2 separate regions of the Homo sapiens genome follow, and region 2 is linked to region 1. The links come from fine-mapping of genetic effects on gene expression. A gene starts in region 1. The other region holds a variant in brackets. All regions are shown on one strand. Distances are between the middles of the regions. Region 1 holds the start of YAF2 (YY1 associated factor 2). Region 2 overlaps YAF2 (YY1 associated factor 2).

Region 1 (5,385 bases):
AGGGGCAGAGATTTTTTTTTAAGAGAAACACCCATAAATGGGAGGCAGTTGGTATAGTGCAAGGGCATATGATTCTGTGCTCCACAAAAACTAGGTTCCTGGTTCATCGACAAGGATGTGTGGAGTTGTAAAGTTCATTTTGAAGGATAAATGTTAATTCTGGCATTTATTGACCATCCACTGCATGCAATATGCCTAACAGTTTGTAAATCCCAATATGAAAGAAAAAAATCTCATTCAACAATTGTAACACAAGTGAATGTATTGATTATTTAGTTTAGAAACAGGGTCTTGGCTTTGTTGCTCAGGCTGGTCTGGAACTCCGGGGCCCAAGTTATCTTCCTGCCTCAGCCTCCCAAGTAGCTGGGAATACAGGCGCGCGCTAACCTGACTATAAGTGGATGTATTTATTCTCAGAATATTTATTGAGTGCCCACTATGTGTCACACTGTTCTAGGGGCTGGAGATGCAGCAATAAAGGCAACAAAAGTTATTGTGCTTTTTGTTCATGATTCAGAGGTGCGGCTTACTTTTTAGTGAGGGAGGTTACAATCTAGTGAAATGGTGATTTGCAGCATGGGGGATTTTTAGAGTGCTTGATTTAGTTTCCTTTTTATTTAAAAATACATTGTTGCCATCACTTTTGCAAGTAGAGCAGTTCTTGTCAGTCTATTTGAGGATCCATCCAGTTGAGGCATTTAAAAACATCACAATGCCTTAGACTTGCAAGGGACCTTAGTTGTGATAATAGTTTTAACTCCTTTATTTTACATATGAAAAAAACTTAGCTGAGTTTACCCACTGCATTACTGAGAGGTTAAAGACTAGGCCTTAAATCTGGTTCTCTTGTATACGTGCCTCAATCATACTCCTCATGGTTCCTGGTTTCCGAATTTGGGTCTGAATCATGAGAAGCTACATTTGCAAAAAGTACAGATGGTACAACGAGTTTAGAGACTGCTATGTAAATGGAGTGATTTGGTTAATCAGAAAGAAGATGCGGTGAAAGACCAATAGGATACCTGAGCTCTAACCCTGGCCTGCTCATCAAAGAAAAACCATTTAACCTGGGCCCTAATTGCCTTGTCTTTAAAAAGAAGGGCTAGACTACGGATTTACAATGGCTCGACTTACGATTTTTCTACTTTACGATGGATTTATCGGTGTACCAAATGCATTTTCAATTTACAATATTTTCTATTTAAGGTGGATTTATCGGGAAGTATCCCCTTTCTAAATCGAAGAGCATCTGCAGTCGATGAGGCCATGTGCATAGTACTTTGAGTCCTTTAAAATATGCATCTATGCGCAGGGATTTACAAAGTGCCTGGCACATAGTGCTCAAAAAAATGTTATTTATTTATTTACTTAGAGGCGGAGTCTCGCTCTGTCGCCCAAGCTCGAGTGCAGTGGCACGATCTCGGCTCACAGCAACCTCTCACTCTCGGATTCCAGCGATTCTCCTACCTCAGCCTCCCGAGTAGCTGAGATTACAGGCGCCCGCCACCACAGCTGGCTAATTTTTGTATTTTTTAATAGAGATGGGGTTTCGCCACGTTGGCCAGGCTGGTCTTGTGAACTCCTGACCTCAGGTGATCCGCCCGCCTCGGCCTCCCAAAGTGCTGGGATTACATGCGTGAGCGACCGCAACCGGCCAAAAAATGTTATTATTAATCGCACAACAATCTCATATAGATGCAATTCAGAATATGAAAACGTTGAGAATTACAGAAATTAAGCAATACTTCCAAGGTCTATCAGCTAAGAAACAGGAGAAGCAGGCTGAGAATCCTGGGCTTCTGACTGTATTATTTCCTATGTAGTTTAGCTATAAAATTATTTTACATGAATTCGGACTTGATGTAAACCTAGAAAGATGGACAGAAACAGCACAGTTAAAGAGGGATATACTTTATGCAGAAGTAACCCATGTGCATGAAGGAAGGGTTCTGGTAAGGGAATGAATTTCATCTGCACTCTTTGTCAGGAGGCAGCTTTCCTTATGGGAGAGGGAGGCAGAGGTAGGGAAAATGTGTGAAGCCTTTGAATGCCAGGCTAAGGAGTGTGGGCAAGTCGTTAGTGGTTCTTTATCAGAGTGGTGGCATAGTATTAACAGCATTTTATTATTAATCTGGTTGTGGATTACTGAATACATTGGGGAGGTAGAAGTGGAGCTTCGGAGACCAGTTAGATGGCTGTTGCTGGAGTCTGGAGTATGAGGACCTTTAGTATGTTGACGTAGAGACCTGGGAAGGTGTTCTTTTGTTAGCAGACAGCGTTGAGGGGACATGCAAACTCCTTATATTTAAAAAGGACTTATGAGTATATAGGGGTTTCTTTCAAAAGCAGCTACTGCAGAGGCCTGAGAGGCCAAAAGGGCGCGTTTGGAATTAAAACAGAGTTAGACTCTTGGCTTTGTCATTTTCTAATTATATAGCCTAGAGGAAGTCACCTAATCTCTCTTGAGTCTTGATTTCAATTCCTCTAAGTTAGGGTTGACAATCCCTACTTGTTAGAGCATCTGTGTGCATAAACCAGACAGTGCTTTAAGGCATGTAGCAATGGCGCTGCGTGTTGGTTCCCGCCTTCCCCCCGGTATACTGCAGGCGGGGGCTGGGTAGCTAAGGACAGCGGAGGCCAGGAAAGTCGTTCTACCTGGAGATCCCGGGCTGGCACTTCTGTCCAGACCTGGACAGGCCTCCGAACGCCGGCCGGCCCTACCTTGGACCAGGCTTCGCACGGGATGACGGAGCATCCCCTGCCAGTCGGTGGGACAGACGTTTTCCTCCTCAGAGGGGCTCTGGAGCGCGAGGCAGTCCCCGGCAGCCGGGGGTACCAAGGGGGCAACGGGGGAACAGCGCGGAGAGGCGGCGCCGGCGCCCGAGGCAGCCGCGGCCACCGCGGCCACCCCCGCACCGCCCGCCGGCTAACTCGCCGCGGGTGCTGGGCCGCGCTGGCCGCGTTTGAAGTCTCCGGCGCGGCTGCTGGTTGGCCGGCGAGGGTCACGTGCGCCCAGGCAGGAGTTTCCCCGACAGCTGGAGGCTGCGTGGGATCCGGCGGCGGCTCCCGAGCGCGGCGGTGCGGCCTTCCCCGCCCCCTCCCTCCCTCCTCCCCCGCCCGCTTCCGCCCGGCTTATTATCCTCCTTATTGACAAACAGAGCGGTCGCGGCGGCGACTCTCGGCGTGCGGTGATAGCCAAGCCATGGGAGACAAGAAGAGCCCCACCAGGTAACAGCGCCCGGGCCCCGGGGCCCGGACTGTGCGGGCGGCAGGGCCCTCGTGCAGGGCTTCGGGTGGCCGCCTCGCTAGCCGCCCGGGCACCGGGGCGAGCACGGGGGCAGCGCCGCTGGTGTGCGAGTGCTGCCGCTTGAGGGGGCCGGCGCCGGCCGCCCCACAATGGAGCCGCGATGGCGGCGGCGACCGGAGCGGCCGCCCGGGTGTCAGAGCGGCTGTGGCGGCGGCGACTGCGGCCGCGCTCGCGCCCTGCCTCTTCCTGACTCCCTTCCCCCTCAGCCGGAGCGCGGCGCGCCGAGGGCCCGCGGGGCGGGGGTCGCAGAATTGGGGCGGGGGGCGGGGCGGGGGCGGCCGCGGGGCCCGGGCACCGGGCGCGGCCTGCTGGTGACCCCGCGCCGCGTCGTGTCCGGGTTGTGTCCTGCAGGCCGAAGCGGCAGCCGAAGCCGTCCTCGGATGAGGGTTACTGGGACTGTAGCGTCTGCACCTTCCGGAACAGCGCCGAGGCCTTCAAGTGCATGATGTGCGATGTGCGGAAGGGCACCTCCACCCGGTGAGTCCCGGGCCTGCCCCTCGCGCCGCCGGCCGGCGGGGTGGCGACCAGAGGACGCCCTTGCGGCTGCCGCCCCCTCCCATGACACTGGCGGACCCGGCGGGAGGAGGCAGACGGAGGTGGCTGTGGCGATAGGAACTGGGTCACATTGATCGCAACCCAGGCGATGGTTTGCGGTGAGGGGTAATTGAAGAGGCTGTAACGTTTTTTGCTGCCAAGAGAGAATAAATTATTTAAGGGAGGCATTAGCTACTGCGATTTAATTCGTATCGCTGGGTGTAATGCCCCTCTCCCCATTCTGGGTATAAAAATGTTGGCTGCATTGTTGTGTTAGTGTGTGGGGATCAAGGAAAACCCATAAAATCTCTTTAGGAGCAAAGGATGTAATTTAATTTCGTTCCTAAAGAAAGAAAAGTATCTGATTGCAGAATACACAATATATTAAAACTTATTTTTCTACATGTACTTCTGGAAGGGTCAGATCAAGGTTTTATTTAGTGTTTTTATTCCAGTACTCTAATATTTTATAAATAAGTAGTTGGAGATGAGCCCAGTCACAGGAACAGATTTTTACTGAAAGTACCTTTATATCTTTAGTTTGATTAAATGGCAGTCTCTTAGACAAATGAGATGAAAAGATCTCTGCCTATTTTCAGACTTTATTTATTGTAAGCTTGCAGTATAATAACTCTGTCTTTTAAAAAATGACTTTGAATTAAGTGAATAAAGAAAATCATCCAGGAAATTCAGTCAGTGGCATTCTTAATCTGTCAGCACTTAGTTATCGAGCTCCTTGATTCTTATACGAAGGTACCCTTTGAATTAAATATAATCCTGTGATTTATTACTTAATATTTAGAGAAGATATGTATTTTGATATTACAAAGTCCATTAGAAACTAAACTATAACAATAAGCATACTAATCTTACTGTTGCTTTAAAAAAGAAGGCACATGTAATATTGACATATACAAATATTCAGTAGACGTTAGATTTCTAAAAAATGAGATCTTGATTTTTTAAAAAACACTTTACAGAATTTTATTAAGTTTAAAATTTAGAGACAGGAATGGTTGACAGTAACTTATCTGAAAAATTTCTCAGTGAAGCTCGCTGGTTTTGACATGCTTGTTTTTTGTAAATCATCATATGCTTTTTGTATATTCCCACAATTGATAAAATATTTCGTACATTTTTCATATTCAAAAAGCAAACTTTCAAACGTATGCTAAATTTAAGGGATTACAACAGAACATTCCAAAAAGAAAAAAAGTATTTGCTAAAATGATTGTGGTTACTATTTTTGGACCCGTGATTTGTGATTTAAGTATTTTGAAAAGCAGAGTATCTTCTTGGCTGTGTAAGGTTGGAGTTGGTTTAGAGTATATTTGTGTATCTGTGTTAGTACTTTGTGCTTTTTAAAATGCTCAATAAGCAATTTTTAGAAAATTCGTTTTTTGGAGGCAGGAACATTAAAGTGGAAACAATTATAATCTTGATCTCTGGTACTATATATTATTGCTTTTTGTTGTTCCCTCTCTATTTTCTTGTAGCCATTAGAAAAATACTGAAACTAGAAGAGCCTATATGTTTATTTGCAG
Region 2 (5,385 bases), 30 kb after region 1:
ATGGCTAGTTAAGAAATGATAGATTTTGATCAACTAATTATTCTTGTACTAATATAAAATATAATGATATTGTTTCAGCAAAATGAAATAGCCTGGTGGCTGATATTTTTGTATATTAAAATATAGCAGCCATTATAGTAGACTTTTTAAAATGAAACCATTCTAATGATTTCCTTATGTTTCTGATAATGTGAGAAGTTTCCACTGACATTATATTTAGCAAATTGTTTCCATATTTACTTTGATACGTGTATATATAGTTATCTAGTGAATTTATGCTTTCTTCTGTAGTTCTACGTGTGATAATAATCTCAAATAAAATGAAATAATCTTCTTATTCTGATAGAGAAGAAAAAGCTGGATCACTTACCAGTAACTGGAGTTCTCCTATTGGGTAATCTCCACAGATCCACATTGTTTGAAGTTATTGTGAGTGCCTCGAGGACCAAGGAACCGTTGAAATTTCCAATTTCAGGAAGGTAAGCAAGTGCACTGAAGCATGTCTCTAGCATCTCCCAAATCCCCTCCCCCAAACTTTCTTACATATACGTCTGTACTGCATGCCCCCTCAGTTCCAGTGGATGCCCATCAGGAAGATTCTCATGCTGAACAGAAGGGCAAGAGAGGTGGATCTGTGAGGGAAAAGACCCAATAGGATAACTCAAGTTACTGGTAAGTAATCTAGTTTTCACAAACCTGAGATTTTTTTTCCCCCCAAATTTTGTCCCTTGAGAAGGAGTTTGTTTAATTGAAAAGAAAGGAAGTTACTTGGGATAGCTTCTTTTTGTACATTTGATATGGATTATGGAAATTATTGTGTGGACAGTAAATACTGAGCTATTAATGGGTGTATGAGTAAAAAGTATGACATTAATTTTAAAGTATCTTATTTACGTAATAGCTGCTTCTAAAAAATTATACATTTAGTTGGCCGGGCTTGCTGACTCACACTTGTAATCCCAGTACTTTTGGAGGCCAAGGCGGGTGGATCACCTGAGGTCGGGAGTTCGAGAACAGCCTGACCAACATGGAGAAACCCTGTCTCTACGAAAAATAGAAAATTAGCCGGGCATGGTGGTGCATGCTTGTAATCCCAGCTATTCGGGAGGCTGAGGCAGGAGAATCGCTTGAACCCAGGAGGCAGAGGTTGCGGTGAGCTGAGATTGTGCCATTGCACTCCAACCTGGGCAACAAGAGCGAAACTCTGTCTCAAAAAACAAAAAATTATGCATTTACTGGCTTTGGTAAATGGTTTAGTTGTTCTAAAGCAATATAGGGAAGCCAAATGTTGAATTCTTGTGTACATTTCTTTATGATGTTGCTTTTTTGAAGTAAATACTTATATTGTAAAATTTATGCAGATGTCATATTTGGTGAATTTCTTTTGGCACAGTAGTACTGACCAGCAAGGATAGTTTTATATTAATTGTCTAGCACTTTTTTTTTTTTTTTTTTTTTTTTTTGAGACAAAGTCTGGCTCTATCGCCCAGGCTAGAGTGCAGTGGTGTGATCTTGGCCTACTGCAACTTCTGCCTCCTGGGCACAAGCCATCCTCCCACTTCAGCCTCCTGAGTAGCTGGGACTACAGTTGCACACCACCATGCTTGACTAATTTTTTTATTTTTTATAGAGATGGGGTTTTGCCATGTTGCCCAGGCTGATCTCGAACTCATGAACTCAAATGATCTGCCCACCTTGGCCTCCCTAAGTGTTGGGATTACAGGTGTGAGCCACTGCTCCTGGCCTGACTAGCACTTTTTTTTTTTTTTCCTAGCACTTCTTAATGACAGTTTTCAATGTATCTTGAACTTCATTGAAAGTATATTTGAAAAATAATATAGGATATGTTGCAAGTCTATTTACCGCTTCCTTGTTTGTAATGAAAATACTTGATGTGAATTGTGACAGAATTGGTTCAGTTTGAGCTGCCTGATTTCCTCAGGTACCAAATAACTTATTGAATTGATATTTGTAAATGTTACTATATAGTTTCTTGCTTCTCATTTCTCTCCCACTCATTTTGTATTATTACTAGGTTCTATTTCTAAAAAGGCATTTTAAATATAAAGAGCTCGTAGTGGTGTCCTGCTTATAGCTGTTTTACAAAACTTTCATCCGTTTGCTGGATACTTGAGGCCTCCTGCTATCCAATTCCATTCTGTTTATCTAGCCTTAATTTCTTCAGTTTGAAACTTTTGTTTGTTCTTACCTGCATAGTTATATTTACACTTGGTTTGTGGTTTCTCACTTTCTTCAGATAGCCTTTTCTGCATTCTGATTTCTGTACTTTAGAGTTGAGGCAAGTCTTACCCCTTTTATCAGTCCTTTTATGCTAGTATATTTGTTATCTTCAGTTCTTCAGTAGAAAAGTGGGATGTCTGTAAGACTATTAATTCATGGAATTTATTTAATACAGTACCTTAGCAGCACCCAGTTAATACCCTTATTGGCTAGTGTTTGGCTATAGATTGATCTTAACCATTTTTGTGGTTATAGTTAGCTGAATGATACAGTTTAGCCCTTAAATATTAGCTTTAGGTTGTATTGCTATTTTTAAATTTTAATTTAATTTAATTTAATTTTTATTTTTTAAAATAAAGTGAGACAGAGTCTCACTCGATCGCCCAGGCTAGAGTGCAGTGGCATGATATCCGTTCACTGCAACCTCCGCCTCCCAGGTTCAAGCAATTCCCTTGCCTCAGCCTCCCAAGTAGCTGGGATTACAAGCATCTGCCACCAGGCCTGGCTAGCTTTTTTGTATATTTAGTAGAGACAGGATTTCACCATGTTAGCCAGGTTTTGAACTTCTGACCTCAAGTGATCTGCCCGCCTCGGCCTCCCAAAGTGTTAGGATTACAGGCATGAGCCATGGCGCCTGGCCATATTGCTATTTTTTAAAAATATACAGCTCTTTTTAAAAAATTTATTATTTTATTTTTTACACAGGTATGTTGTGTAATAAAAATATGCAACTCTTAAACTGGGTTTTTAGGTTCTTTGAGAGCAAGCATAGGATTTTATGGTTTATATTACCTAGTTCCTAACATCAGTGACTGAGATTAAATCATCCCCACTGAAATATTAGCTTTTCATATAGATTTATGAATAAACTTACCAGTTTTTTGTTTGTCTTTTTGAGACAGAGTCTCGCTCTGTCGCCCAGGCTGGAGTGCAGTGGCACGATCTCGGCTCACTGCAAGCTCTGCCTCCTGGGTTCACGCCATTCTCCTGCCTCAGCCTCCCAAGTAGCTGGGACTACAGGCGCCCGCCACGACGCCCGGCTAATTTTTGTATTTTTAGTAGAGA[C/T]GGGGTTTCACCGTGTTAGCCAGGATGGTCTTGATCGCCTGACCTTGTGATCTGCCCGCCTCGGCCTCCCAAAGTGCTGGGATTACAGGCATGAGCCACCGTGCCCAGCCTACACTTACCAGTTTTTTAATGTATAAAGCAGTTTCATTTGGCTCATCAATCTTATTTGTACCATATTTTTTTCTTAAAAACAATTTTTCCCTTTAAAAGCTGGTATAGTGAAATTCTAATTATTTAGTATAATATTATTAATAATTTATCTTGTGGCATATAAAAAGAGTATATAGTTTTGAGAGTATAGAGTAGCTTCACTTAAAGATTTAGTGTTAGAAAACAAAGTGGAAATACAGTATCCTTGATTTTTGCAGTTTGAATATCTTAGAAGATTATTGCTTTCTTTTCAGAAATGAAGGAAGGAAATGCTCTTTGACAGATTGTCTCTTCTAAATAATCATCAGAAAGCAGTTTGTCCAATCATTAGACAAGCCAAGATAAAGAGCATTTAGTCAGATGACTTAAATACTAGTTTTGAATCTACTGCTGCATGTCTTTGTACGATTCTGTTCAATCTCATAGTTTCTTTGGTGTGAATGATATGGTCGTTATATTGAGAGTGCTTTTATTCTTTGGAGAAATATATTGAAATATTCCAAGTGAAGTATCATGTTGGGCTCAGGAGTGGGTTCAGAAAAAAAAGTGTGTGGATATTTGGGTGTGGTGTGTGCAAGTATATGGAGAGAGAGAGAAAAAAGGTAAAGCAAACGTTGTAAATGTTAACAATTTTGAATCTGGGTAGAAGGTATATGGGTCATTGTACTTTCAACTTTTCTATGGCTTTGAAATTTTAAAAAAAGATGAGGAGAAAGTGTTTTAAAGAGAACTTTATTGTGCTTCAATTTCTCCAATTCTAAAATGGGAATAATAGAACTTTTCATGCCTTGAAGCAGGTAGGCACAGTGGGATAACATTTGGCAGAATAGCAGCCAAGAGAATTCCTAAAAAGTGATTTTTTTTTTGTCATTAAAGAAGTGATTTATAATGGAGAACTTTTCAAAGAACAGTTTGTCTAAGGTGATTTAGCTTAAAATTTCAGTTACTTTTTTTTTTTTTTTAATATGGAGTCTTACTCTGTCTCCCAGGCTGGAGTGCAGTGGCGCTATCTCGGCTCACTTCAACCTCCACCCCCTGGGTTCAAGCGATTCTCCAGCCTCAGCCTCACGAGTAGCTAGGTCTACAGGTGTGCACCACCGCGTCCACTTAATTTTTGTATTTTTAGTAGAAATGGGGTTTTGCCATGTTGGCCAAGCTGGTCTCGAACTCCTGACCTCAGGTGATCTGCCCGCCTCAGCCTCCCAAGGTGCTGGGATTACAGGCGTGAGCCACTGCGCCCAGCCAGACGTCACTTTTTTTTTTTTTTTTTTTTAACTAAGAGCATATTGCATTATAATTGAACAAGAACAGTTACTTCAGAAACAATAAATATTTATGTAAAATAACCAATTAAAATCTTGAAAAATATAGCTTGTAATAAAATAACTCAATAAATGGGTAAAATAGAAGATATGACACAGCTAAAGAGAGAAGTTACTGATTTGAAGAAAGAAATGAGTACTCCTCCGGACAAGCACAGAGAAATGCAGAAAAATGAAGAGGTGAAAAATATGGAAGAAAAGATGACACTTAGAGGATAGATTGAGCAGTTCCAATATAGGTCTAATTGGAGTTTTAGAAGAGAGCATACACAGAGGAGTGGAGAAGCAATATTAAAGGAAAAATGATTAAGAATTTTCAAGAATTAAAAAAATGGAAATTACAAAATAATTAGAACTAAATCACAACAAAAGTGTTGTATCAAAATTTGAGGGATGCACAAAAATGGTACTTGGGGATAAATTTATAATCTTTAATGAATGTATTAGATTGAAAGATTGAAAATAAATGAGCCAGCTCTTCAATTTAAAAAACTAAAAAAAGAGTAGAGCCAAAGGAAGAAGAGGAAATAATAAAAATGAAAACAGAATTTGGTGAACTAGAAAATAATCAGCAATGACCGGGCACGGTGGCTCACGTCTGTAATCC

What was found. PIP is the estimated chance that this variant, and not a neighbour inherited with it, causes the effect. A credible set is the group of variants that fine-mapping cannot tell apart.
Region 2: its variant is the best candidate, but not a certain one, in a credible set for the expression of YAF2 in esophagus mucosa (GTEx, PIP 0.52).

Annotation. Positions count from the first base shown.
Region 1 is chr12:42,235,998-42,241,382 of GRCh38, reverse strand. It overlaps YAF2 (YY1 associated factor 2), which reads left to right and starts at 3,135. Exons shown (of 4, transcript NM_005748.6): 1 at 3,135-3,228; 2 at 3,659-3,784. The coding sequence starts at 3,203. LOC124902920 (a long non-coding RNA gene) reads right to left here and starts at 2,938. Exons shown (of 2, transcript XR_007063279.1): 1 at 2,656-2,938; 2 at 2,105-2,246. RefSeq lists silencers at 2,390-2,529, 2,720-2,959, 3,010-3,389, 3,490-3,559, 3,680-4,009 and an enhancer at 3,343-3,844.
Region 2 is chr12:42,205,642-42,211,026 of GRCh38, reverse strand. All of the region lies in intron 2 of YAF2 (YY1 associated factor 2), which reads left to right. Among named protein-coding and RNA genes, the nearest start is that of YAF2, 30 kb to the left of the region's middle. The variant C/T (reference allele first, on the strand shown) is at 3,307.